Linked DNA regions of Homo sapiens: region 1 is linked to region 2. The links come from fine-mapping of genetic effects on gene expression. A gene starts in region 2. The other region holds a variant in brackets. All regions are shown on one strand. Distances are between the middles of the regions. Region 1 has its middle 23 kb from the start of PLRG1. Region 2 holds the start of FGG (fibrinogen gamma chain).

The links. PIP is the estimated chance that this variant, and not a neighbour inherited with it, causes the effect.
Region 1: its variant is the best candidate, but not a certain one, in a credible set for the expression of FGG in lung (GTEx, PIP 0.89).

What each region holds. Positions count from the first base shown.
Region 1 is chr4:154,524,879-154,530,271 of GRCh38, forward strand. It overlaps the pseudogene WDR77P1. Among named protein-coding and RNA genes, the nearest start is that of PLRG1, 23 kb to the right of the region's middle. The variant A/G (reference allele first, on the strand shown) is at 2,728.
Region 2 is chr4:154,609,981-154,615,373 of GRCh38, forward strand. It overlaps FGG (fibrinogen gamma chain), which reads right to left and starts at 2,676. Exons shown (of 9, transcript NM_021870.3): 1 at 2,552-2,676; 2 at 2,411-2,455; 3 at 2,038-2,221; 4 at 1,825-1,918; 5 at 87-217. The coding sequence starts at 2,629. RefSeq lists an enhancer at 2,718-3,890.

The DNA.
Region 1 (5,393 bases), 85 kb before region 2:
GAGATAACACAGGAGCCTTCTGTAGTATGTTGAAACATTAGATCTGTGCCATTAATTGGCATCGTCTCGCAGCCTGAAGGAGGCTGGATGCTGGGATCCTGTAGTCACAGGAAAGAAAAGCTTTCTTAAAAATGGGCATGCAGGTTCGTCTTGAGTGTGTGTGTGTAGGTTTTGGTAGGGAGGTGGGACGGTGGGGGAGGGATTTAAAAAAAATCTATCCCACATCTCCCCTGAACACCATCTCTCCCTCACTCCCCAAAAAAGTTGACAAAAGGGTTTTATTCTTCCCATGTAGCTGTCTGAGGAATTGACCATATCTGGGTGGGGTATGGAATGTGGGCATCCCTAGGTTCCTGGAAGCAGCTCTTATGCTACTCATAGAGATGGGACTGATTTTATTTTTTATAGCGCTTAATTCACCGTTATGGGAAATGCTTCCAATCACAAAAATTCAGCCCAGCTCGTTTTGAGGAAGAGGCAGGACATGTTATAGTTTTATACAACTCATTTCCATTAAACTGAATCAGAAGTCCTTTTTCTGGATGAATTAAAAATGTGGCCTGTGCCTGTGTAATGTCCACTCCTTTCTGCCAACTCCCTTCCCTCTGCTCCCTGCTGGTGTTGTGTATATGAAAGAGGAGTGTTTTTCTGTCATAGATGCCCTAGAGGAAATTTTGTGGATGTTGGAGAGCTTAAAGGCATTTCAATTGTTAGAAAACTGACACAGACTGTTACAGAGGAATCTTTGCCACTTTTCCCACCCAAAACCAGCCTGGGGCCTGACCTCTTCTGCTCTCAGCCCCTTTCTCTGCATATAGAAAGTCTAAATGCAGTATGTGTAGACTTTTAAAGTTTTAAAATTCAGCCTCAGGAAGAAAATCAGAAATACTGGCTGGTGAAATAAACAGTTTAGGCATCTTGTAAGCCTGCCTTTTTTGAAAAACAACAAAACAAAGTAAGTGTTGGTGAGGATGTGGAAAAATTGGAACCCTTGTGCACTGTTGATGGGAATCAAAAATGGTGCAGTCATTATGGAAAACAATATGACAATTCCTCAAAAAATGAAAAATACAATTACCATGTGATCCGGCAATTCAATTTCTGGATACACATCCAAAAAAATGAAAGTAAGATCTCAAAGAGATATTTGTATACCCATGTTTAGAGCAGCATTATTCACAACGGTCAAAAGGTGGCAGCTCCCCGAGTGTCCATTGACACATGAGTGGATGAATAAAAAGGTGGTATATACATAAAATGGAATATTATTCAGCCTTAAAAGGAAAGGAAATTCTGACATGGGCTACAACATGGATGAACCTTGAGGACACCATGCTGAGTGAAATAGGCTAGCTGTAAAAAGATAAATGCAATTCCACTCATATGAGGAACCTAGAGTAATCAAATTCATAAAGACAGAAAGTAAACAGGTGGTTTCCTGGAGCTGCGAGGAAAGGGGAACGGGGGTTTATTGTTTAATTGGTGCAGAGTTTCAGTTTTGCAGATGAAAAGCATTCTCAGGATTGATTGCACAACAATGCAAATGTACACAGCACTACTGATGTGTATAATTAAAAATGGTTATGATAAATTCTATGTGTATTTCACCACAATTTAAAAAAAAATACATGAAAATTCTTTGGAAAGTATAAGATATTACAGACAAGAGGCCTCAATTATTGAAAAAAAAGATGAAACACTGTCCTGAATTTCCCAAGGGGAACAAAATCTTGAGCATGTCACCTTTGAAAGCATCATCCTGATCCATGTGTACTAAACCAAGTCTAGTGTGATATAAAGTTCCATAGGCTGCATGTGGCATTATGTGCTACCCTTCAAAATTGATTTCAATCCAAGAAAGAGAACAAATCTCGATTCCCAAGTCTTTCCACAACTTGCTTGCTTTTCAAACATAAATCATACATATTAAATCTAACCATTGTCTATAAAAAGCCAACCACACATTTAAAATGTGTTACTGGTAATAGAGCAGCTTGAGGAGGAAGAGGATGAGGGAACTGAAGGCAAGGGGAGGGAGGTCTGTGGAGAGGGTGGGGTGGAACCTGCCAGGCTCTGGGAAGATCAAGGACATTGACAAAAAAGAACAGATTTATCATCACAGAAAAGATGAGGGTAAAAAAACAACAAACAAACAAAACAGGTTACAGGACAGGACATAAGGGCAGACCAACCGTTTAAGGAAAATAAGTCTCATTAGAGGGTTAGAAGCATTAAAAAACTTTTTTCACTTTGTCCTCTGAGGAGAATATTTCTGAAATTTCTGCTTATGGTTATATAAAATCGGGCTGAGGATTTTTTAAAACGTAAAGTTGGTAGCAGACTTTGGATATTTTCATCTATATTTGTTTTTCTGCCTTTAATAAAATAGTGTGTATGTTTCATTTCAGAAGCTATCAAAGACCACATTTTGATTGGTCCACACAATCAAACCAGAAGAATGTTCCAGTTTATTGAATTTGTCTCCTTATTTAAGAAAAAGAAAATTAAGCCAGGAGAAGTTAGCGCTCCATCCACCAGCTGGGTCTTTGATGAAGGGAAGTGAAATGAGGATTCTGCACAGGTGGGCGGTAGCTGGTGGAGTGAGCGCCCTGCAGGTGCAAGTCATGACAACAAATGGGGAGGGATGCTGTGAAGACATTGCCCCATTGTGTTAGGAGAATTCCCAGACACCCCATTCCACTCCTCCAGCTCTCTCCAGGATGGAAG[A/G]ATGGGGAACTATGAGGCGTATGCACCATCCAGGAAGAATCCTAAGTCACATTTACCCTGAAAAGCATGCTTCTGTCCATGAATGTCTTCCACCCTGTGGCTGGGGCTTGGGGGCGGGTAGGGAACAGTGTGGCTGGTGATATTTATGCTTTTCTTCATTTACCAAATATCTTGTAAATGGAACTCTTTCTTTTTTATAAGTCAGTGTTAATGAGTGTAGACCTCAGAGATTTAAAATGAACTATCTGCAAATCTGTGACATTACACTAGAATAAATGTTTTATTACCCCCTCAAATCCAAGTCTCTCTTAAAAGATGTTGAACAGAAAGTACTTAAAGGAATATCTTACATTTTTCATCCATAGTTCAAGTTAAATGATAGGGTAATACTAACACATTAGCTGTCCTTTATACATATTAATCAATAATGCAGTTTTATTATCAATAATTGATTTAAGTCTCAGTAGTGGACAATTTTAAAACAGTCTAAATGTGAAAGTTCAGCATTCTAATCGTTCACAGACAAGCAAGTTAGTGTGAATATATGACACTATGTAAATGACAATATATACATCCAAGTTTAAGTTTACAGTCCAATATAAGGTTACAATTATGTCAAGTCTTAGAAGAATTTTTTTCATAGATACGGACTTCTAACCTATGTATATCACTCTTCTGTTACTATACTTGATAAAATACATTTTGCTAGCTAGAATAGACTTATACTTAGAAAGTTCCATTTACAGTTACACAATTTAATAAAGTTTGATTAAATGAACTGGCAAAATCTGTAATGTTACAAAGTAATAAAATGTAAAACTAAAACTATGGCACATCTGAAAATCAAGAATGACTTGTTTGGCCCACATTACAATTCCTGTATACTAGAATAATAATATATGTTATGTCATAATTTTTCATAAATGATTTTTCAAAATTCAGCAATAATTTTAAATAAATGTGTGCATATATATACGTTTTGCATATAGTTACACAGGTTTCCCAACTGAAATAACTAAGAGAAATAAAAACAGAGAAAAACCTGCCTCTGTGCTGGAAGGAGGGAAGGGTGACCTGTCAATAAGTGTTTGTTGAATGAGTGAATGAATCATGCAAAATTCTAATATCTTATTAAAATAGGAGATAACCTGCCATAGCTAGGACCCAGAAATAAAGAAAACAGAGTTACTTTCATTGTATCTGGGGATCATCCCTTAGCTATTTCTCTCAGTATTTTGAACCTATGTTAATAATGGATATCAAATTTTTCAAACACCAGCAGAGGACAAGGAAGAGCTAACATTCTGACCCCAGTGAAAGTGGACTCTGGTACTTTCATTTAGTCACAGGCTCGCTCAGGGAGTCTTGTTTCTTATTCCTCACTAATAGTCCCAGTCATACAAGCACTTGAGATTATTTTGGCTCCATCCTACTTCCCTGTAGCTACTATGGCCTCCCACTCTCTCATGGACATTCATCGTATTTTGCTCTTGCAACATTCCCTCTCTTGGCCACACTCCAATGCAAATGATTTACTGTAATATGTCTCCACCTTCACACCTTGTGAGAATGAAATGAAAAATCCTACAATTAATTCCTAAGGAAAACAGTACCTTCTAATGCCACCAAAGGTATTGGAAGCAATTATTATTAATTAATAATATAATTATTATTAATTGCAATTGTCGTTGCAAACAGCTTCCAAGAGGGTGGTAGACAGCCAAGACTTTTTATTCAAATAGCTGTTTTCATTCATAAAGCAATCTACTAAATGATAATGTCATGCTTTTTGGCAACATCCGTATTTATGGGTTCTCCTTTTAAGAATTTTCTCTTACATTTGGCATGCTCAGTACAGGACAATACTTCTTAGGAAGTTTGATGGATATTTTTCTTTTGTACTTTTTTAATCAACAGAAACTACACTGATTTTGATTTGCTTAAACAAAAATTTTTTTTCATATTAACAGTCATTTTACCATAGTGTTAGAAGACACCATGGTGGAGGTACTTGCAGTGAGATAACATCCTGCATATTAATCCTTGTGTTTTTCTCTCCTCCACTTCCTGACTCTTCCCTTCATCAGCTGGAGGCAATCACGTTGCCTGGGAGAGAATTAAGATTGTTAAAGCAGGAATTTAAGGAGAAAGGAACTATTTTAATATTATTTTTGAAGTAGAAACTAGGGTTTTAAGATTCAAAAAGAGAAGCTCCAAGGAGACCAGAGCAGAGAGTTTATAACCTCTTCAAAAAGAAAGAGTCAGCCAAGAGTCAGCTCCACCCCTTGGAAACATCAAGAAGCCCAGCCAACACCTACAGACCATCCCTTGCCATTCCTGTGAGCTCATCATCATGCCCCTGGCAGAAAAGCTACAAGTTTCTTCTTGTGACTTTCCTATGAATGCCTTCCTCGCGTTGTTGCCTATACATGGACCGTTGCTCATTCAACAAAAGCCAACTTCTCACCATTCCTTCGCCTTCTCTCCTGCCCTGAGACTTTGATGAGCTCCCATCTGAATTGCCATGGATATGTACCCACTTCTGGAGGCACTCAAAAGCAAGTCCCCTGGATCTGTTAAAAAACAATGTGGCTGCCTATAAAATATAAAAGTCAAAACAACAGTAGCTTAAGGAAGATAGAAGTTTATTTCTCTATGATGTAATT
Region 2 (5,393 bases):
CTATTCCTATACTTTCCAGTACATACTTTCTCCTTTACATTACTTACTTTGATGAACCTAATCCCAATATAACCTTCATCAGTTACCTTTCCCAGTGATATCATGGATTTGCACCGTGTCTTTGCAAGGTTCCTGGCACTGTGCTTCAAGCTGGGCTACCTTCTCTTTCAGGTTAACAATCTTTTGATTATTTGAATTATATATTTCCTGCAAATATCTACAAACAGAAACATAAGATAACAAAAATAAGAAGACAAAAATAAGTATTCCTTTCAGAAGAGTAATTTTATATTTTCTTTGGAAACTGCTAAGTATTTTCTTAAGAAGTGCTTTCTGATAAATTATTCCATTCTTGAGGAAAATGTAAAATTATATTACTAAATTAACATGAATTAAAATTATAAACTTTTTGAAAAAGAAAAACAAATCAAAAAATCAATTAAAACAGGAATACAATGTGGACCTGAATCTTTTTACTTAGAATGGGGCATATTGTCTCAACTCCCAACACAAATAACAAAGTCCTTGTCAATAAGCAAATGTCATTGACATTTTGCTTTTTACTTTATGCATAAGGGACAGCAGATAGCAACCTGCAAGAGTGGCGGGACTGGTTAATAGGAACACCCCCTGATGCTTTAGAAGCAGGAAAAGCTCAGTTCAGTAATTCACATGTGCTGAAGGAGTATACCTTTCACTTGTGGATCTACTGAGGCTATACATATAAGCTTCAATCTAAAATATAACTTACACAGGGACATGATCTGGAACGTTATTGTATGTAAAATAAAACAACAGATACTTCCCCTTTCTTCTTTAATGCTTCTGGTTACATAGCTTTGGGAATGGACTGGGGGAAGTAAAAACCCTCCTTTTGTAGTTACTTACAGGGTGGCTTGCAAATATCCAAAAATGATAGAAAACTGTCTACAATGCATAAACCGTTCTTTCTTTGAAGTAAAAAAGGGTAGACAAACTATTTGTCCACGTTTTCCCTCTACCTTGTCTTAGGCAATTTCTGTACAATAACCTCCTTCAACTTCAATGATGGACAATAATAATGCAAGTAATAATAATAACAATAATAACAAGGGCCCTCTGATAGCAAAAAGAGGAGAAATCTTTCCTGGGCCACTTCTCCCTAGCTACTATTTATCTCAATTTCTCAAGCTGCTTTGAGAAAAATTCAGAAAAAAAAATTGGGGAAAAATATTAAAACTGTATCTGAGACCTTATGTTCAGAAAGTTTATGAGTCCCTGAGAAGCTTTAACAGAGACATTCACTTCCAAATGAAGGGAAGAGACTATGCAGGTTCATTCTGCAATGATCAATATGAGCTTTGCAATATTTGCCACACTTAGTCTCTCAAGACATGTTTCTTCCTGCTCCACATTCAATATAATTTACTTTAGGAGCCAAAATCCTTACTATGCCTCTGCTTGCTAATTTTTTTAACCACCAATTTGTCAGCATTTTTATAAAGAGGATTTTATTTTCAACACCCAAATTCCTATGAGATTGATTTTATGTTGTAAGATAAATGGGGGATGGGGAAAAAATTTTTGATAAATATGGTCAAACTAGCATTTGAAGACATCTAGAACATCTTTCTTCAATGTGATTATTAATAAGCAATTATAACCCAGTATAATTTATATTGCACTAAAAACTTCTATCTCTACTATGCTCAACATAATCAGGCATAATGTCACTGGGATATTATAAATGGGGAAAACACATTAAAAATTACTTTCACTCAAGTATAGAATATTAAATAAAAACTAAATCAGTCTTGCAGAGCAAATTAAAACAAAAATCCTTACCGAATACTTGAGTCATGTGTTAAAATCGATGCTTCATATTTCATAATTTCTTCTAACATTTTCCTGGACTTCAAAGTAGCAGCGTCTATCATATCTGTAATATAGGATCAGAGACATAAAAATCCTTAAGCAAATAGAACAACTAAAACAACAGCAAAAGAACTTCACAGATTATTATTATTATTTTTTGGTCAGTAGTCTTTATTTTCTCACTTGGTTTTGATGATTCATCAGGATTATAAGTGAGTTGGATTGCTTTTATCAGCTGTTTGACTTCTGATGTTTTGTTTTCAACTTGATGTAAGATGTCTTCCAAAGACTGTAGATCCTTGTCTACTTTGGTTTGATAAGTAGACAGGAAATCTGCAATGCCACAGGTAGTTGGACAATAACTACCCTGAAAATATAACAGTGATTAAAAATGTAGACAGATGCTACTCTTAAAATCTATTAAGAAAAATAGGTAAAACCTAGACTATGTTTTTAAAAAGTTACAAGTGCCAGATGATATTTATGAGGGAATTATTTCTATTCCTCTGCCCCTCTCCAGTTCACACACAAAGGGAGAAACATAAAAACTACTTACGAATCTTTCATCTAAGATGCAGCAGTTGTCTCTGGTAGCAACATACTAAAAGAGAAAAAATACAGAAATTTCACTAGTTTATTATCTGTTTTATTTTCCAGCTTTCCATTTTAAACAACGTTTTGTGAAGAGCACACTTACTGCTACACATGTTGAAGAGAGAAATAAAAGAGCATAGAAGTAGAGAATTAAATTCCGGGGGTGCAAGGACCAACTCATGATGTCTGAGTGCCCGGAGCTCCGAGCCTTGTAGTGTCAGCACTGTCACCTCTCAGGCTCCAATTGTCCCTTTATGTAAGCTCCTGGGATAGCCAGGACTGCAAATGGCTGGAGCTGATCACGGGGCCTCCTTACCAGAAGGGTGGGCAGGTCTTTCCCGTTCCTTTTTCCTCATCCTGGCCCCCAACCTATACTGTCAGGTTCCCAGATTTTGCACACAGGTTGAAGCTCCTCCTTTTTGGCCCAGCTCAAGGTTTTTTCTCTGATCCAAAATTATCTGCAAAGGCTAGTGAAGCATTATCCATTGCTGTGAGGAGGAGGGCAGTCCTGGAGGCTGTGTGATGCAACTTCTTCCAGTACATGGCTGAGAGCAAACAGATATGACCTCGAACTAAGCAAACCTAGTCTATCCTTAAGATGGGTCCTGCTGCCATCACCTGAATTACCAAAAGAACTTTCTTAGCTTAGGGATCAGTTAACACTATTATTTTAGCCTAGGGATCAGTTAACATTATTATTTTTAATCTGTGGCTGTGGCAGGAGGAGACTGACTTCCCCCATGTCCCAGTTCACTATTCCCAGGAATGAATGACCCTGGAAATACATTCCTGTCCCTCTGTGTCAACCATGTTCATAGGCTCTCACTTCTCAGGGAGCTTTTGAGCTCAATCTTCCCTTTGTCTGAAGGTGGGCATGGCACCCCATCTGCCACAGAGAAAAGAGCCAGGAGCCCACTTCATTGTTCCTGTGGTTCCATCAAGCTATCTCAGAGAAGAGAAAAATCCACCTCCCTTGTATCTAAGGAGAGTAGAGGCATAGCTGAAGGAAGGGGCAAAATGAGGTGCTGGGGAGGGGCCATCATTTCTGTTTGGCCCTTACAGCATCCTTGTGTTTGGGAAAACATGTCTGTCATCACTGCCTATTGAGATTTATCACTGGGCGTTACACTATTATTAATGTCTCTATTTTTGGTTATCCCTCATTTCTTCCTCTGGAACCAAGCTTATTATAAGTTTTGATGAAATATGTTAGTGGGAGAAATGCCTCCAGTTTGAAAGAAATACTAATACTTTAATTCTGTCTTTACAAAGGTATATTTATTGACTCAAAAACAAAGATAAATATTCATATTCAGTAAATAATCAATAATTATAACAAAGTGAACACATCAAAACCAGATTTGTTGCTTTTCTTCTCCTCCTTAATATATCCCTCTCTGACTTAGCAGTTATTGTCAATCATATCACCATACCACCAGCCAATTAAGTCTCACAATCTTTCTCATCCATCTTTTCCACTCAGCTAATCAGTTGTCAATCAAGTCAGTTGAATTAAACATTTAAGTATTAGTATTCTTTCAAACAGCTCTACCTCAGATAGCATTTGTAGCAACCTTATATTATATGTATACATGCTGTATCCACTGCATTAGATTGTAAACTGATTTCTGTGGCTACGGCATCTAACATATATAGCTGTACTTAACATAGTTGTAGTTAACACTCAATAACTATGTAATGACTTGAATCAGTTGCCTCTGTGAAGAAGAATGGGATGCAGAGGTGGAGGACAGGATTGGAAAAAAAGGCTTTATTTTTCTCTGTAAACTTTCTATATTTAGAATGTTGAATGTATATAAATATTATCTACTAAAATATATATAATGAAAATATGTAATTATTGATCATTCACAAAGATTTACATAGTACACTGATAATTACATCTTGCTAACTTTTTAATATGATTTGAACATGAAAGGTGACTCAGGCATTGCCTTTGCCTTCAAGAAGTGTGTAGCTCAATTGGAGAATGTATAAATAAATAGTTGTTAAGGCTCTGGAGTCCATCTCCCTAGGTTTGAGTCCCATCTTTACAATTTACTGGCTGTGTGATTCAGTACAAGTTACTCAATCTCCTTGAGTTCCATTATCCATGTCAGTAAAAGAGAGATAATACTTATGATATGGTATTTACTTAATAGGGCTATTACTAAGATTTAGTGGGATAATGTGTTGAGCACATTACCCAATTCATGGTAAGTGTTAAGTAAATGTTTGTAAGGTTTATGAATTACCAAATATATTTGGTATAAAATCTATGTAAATAGGAAACTCTTTTAATAGAGCTATTATTGGTAGATTTGGTTCACAGGGAACAAGCTTTGTTGTTCTAGCTACAGAAATTCTCTTTAATAAAAAATCTGTTGCAACTAACTGCAGTCTCCTTCTGTAAGATTCCCCAGAGAAGAAAGCACCTGGTCGTTTAGTTTAGGAAATTCTATCCAAATTGATTTTACCAATCAAAGATCAAATGATAATATAAATGGATTGCATGCCTTGTGAGAAGGTATACTTCCTATCTGTAAGAATGTTCAAGCAAAGTGTGTTTAGACAGAGCATGTCTTTGTGGTTCTTTTTGCTGAAGACCATAAAATATTAGTTTGTTGAATTTAGGGTAACAATTCATGCAGCCACAGGTTGGGTTCTGAGCTCCTTAATGTCATAAAGTTTCATTGGTTGTGTTAAGATATATAATATTCACAAAGTTGATAAACATTTAAATTGAGGACATTAGAAATTCTATCTTATCCCATTTTAGAAGTGGAATACTTGTATTACAGGCTTTTAACTGACTTATATTGGAATCCAGATGTGTTATCACAATTTTAGAGAAAATAATTTCCTTTTACTACAATCTCAAGTCCTAAATCCAAATCATATAAGACAAGATGCTTGCTCTCTGAGAAAAAAAAATGGTCAACAGT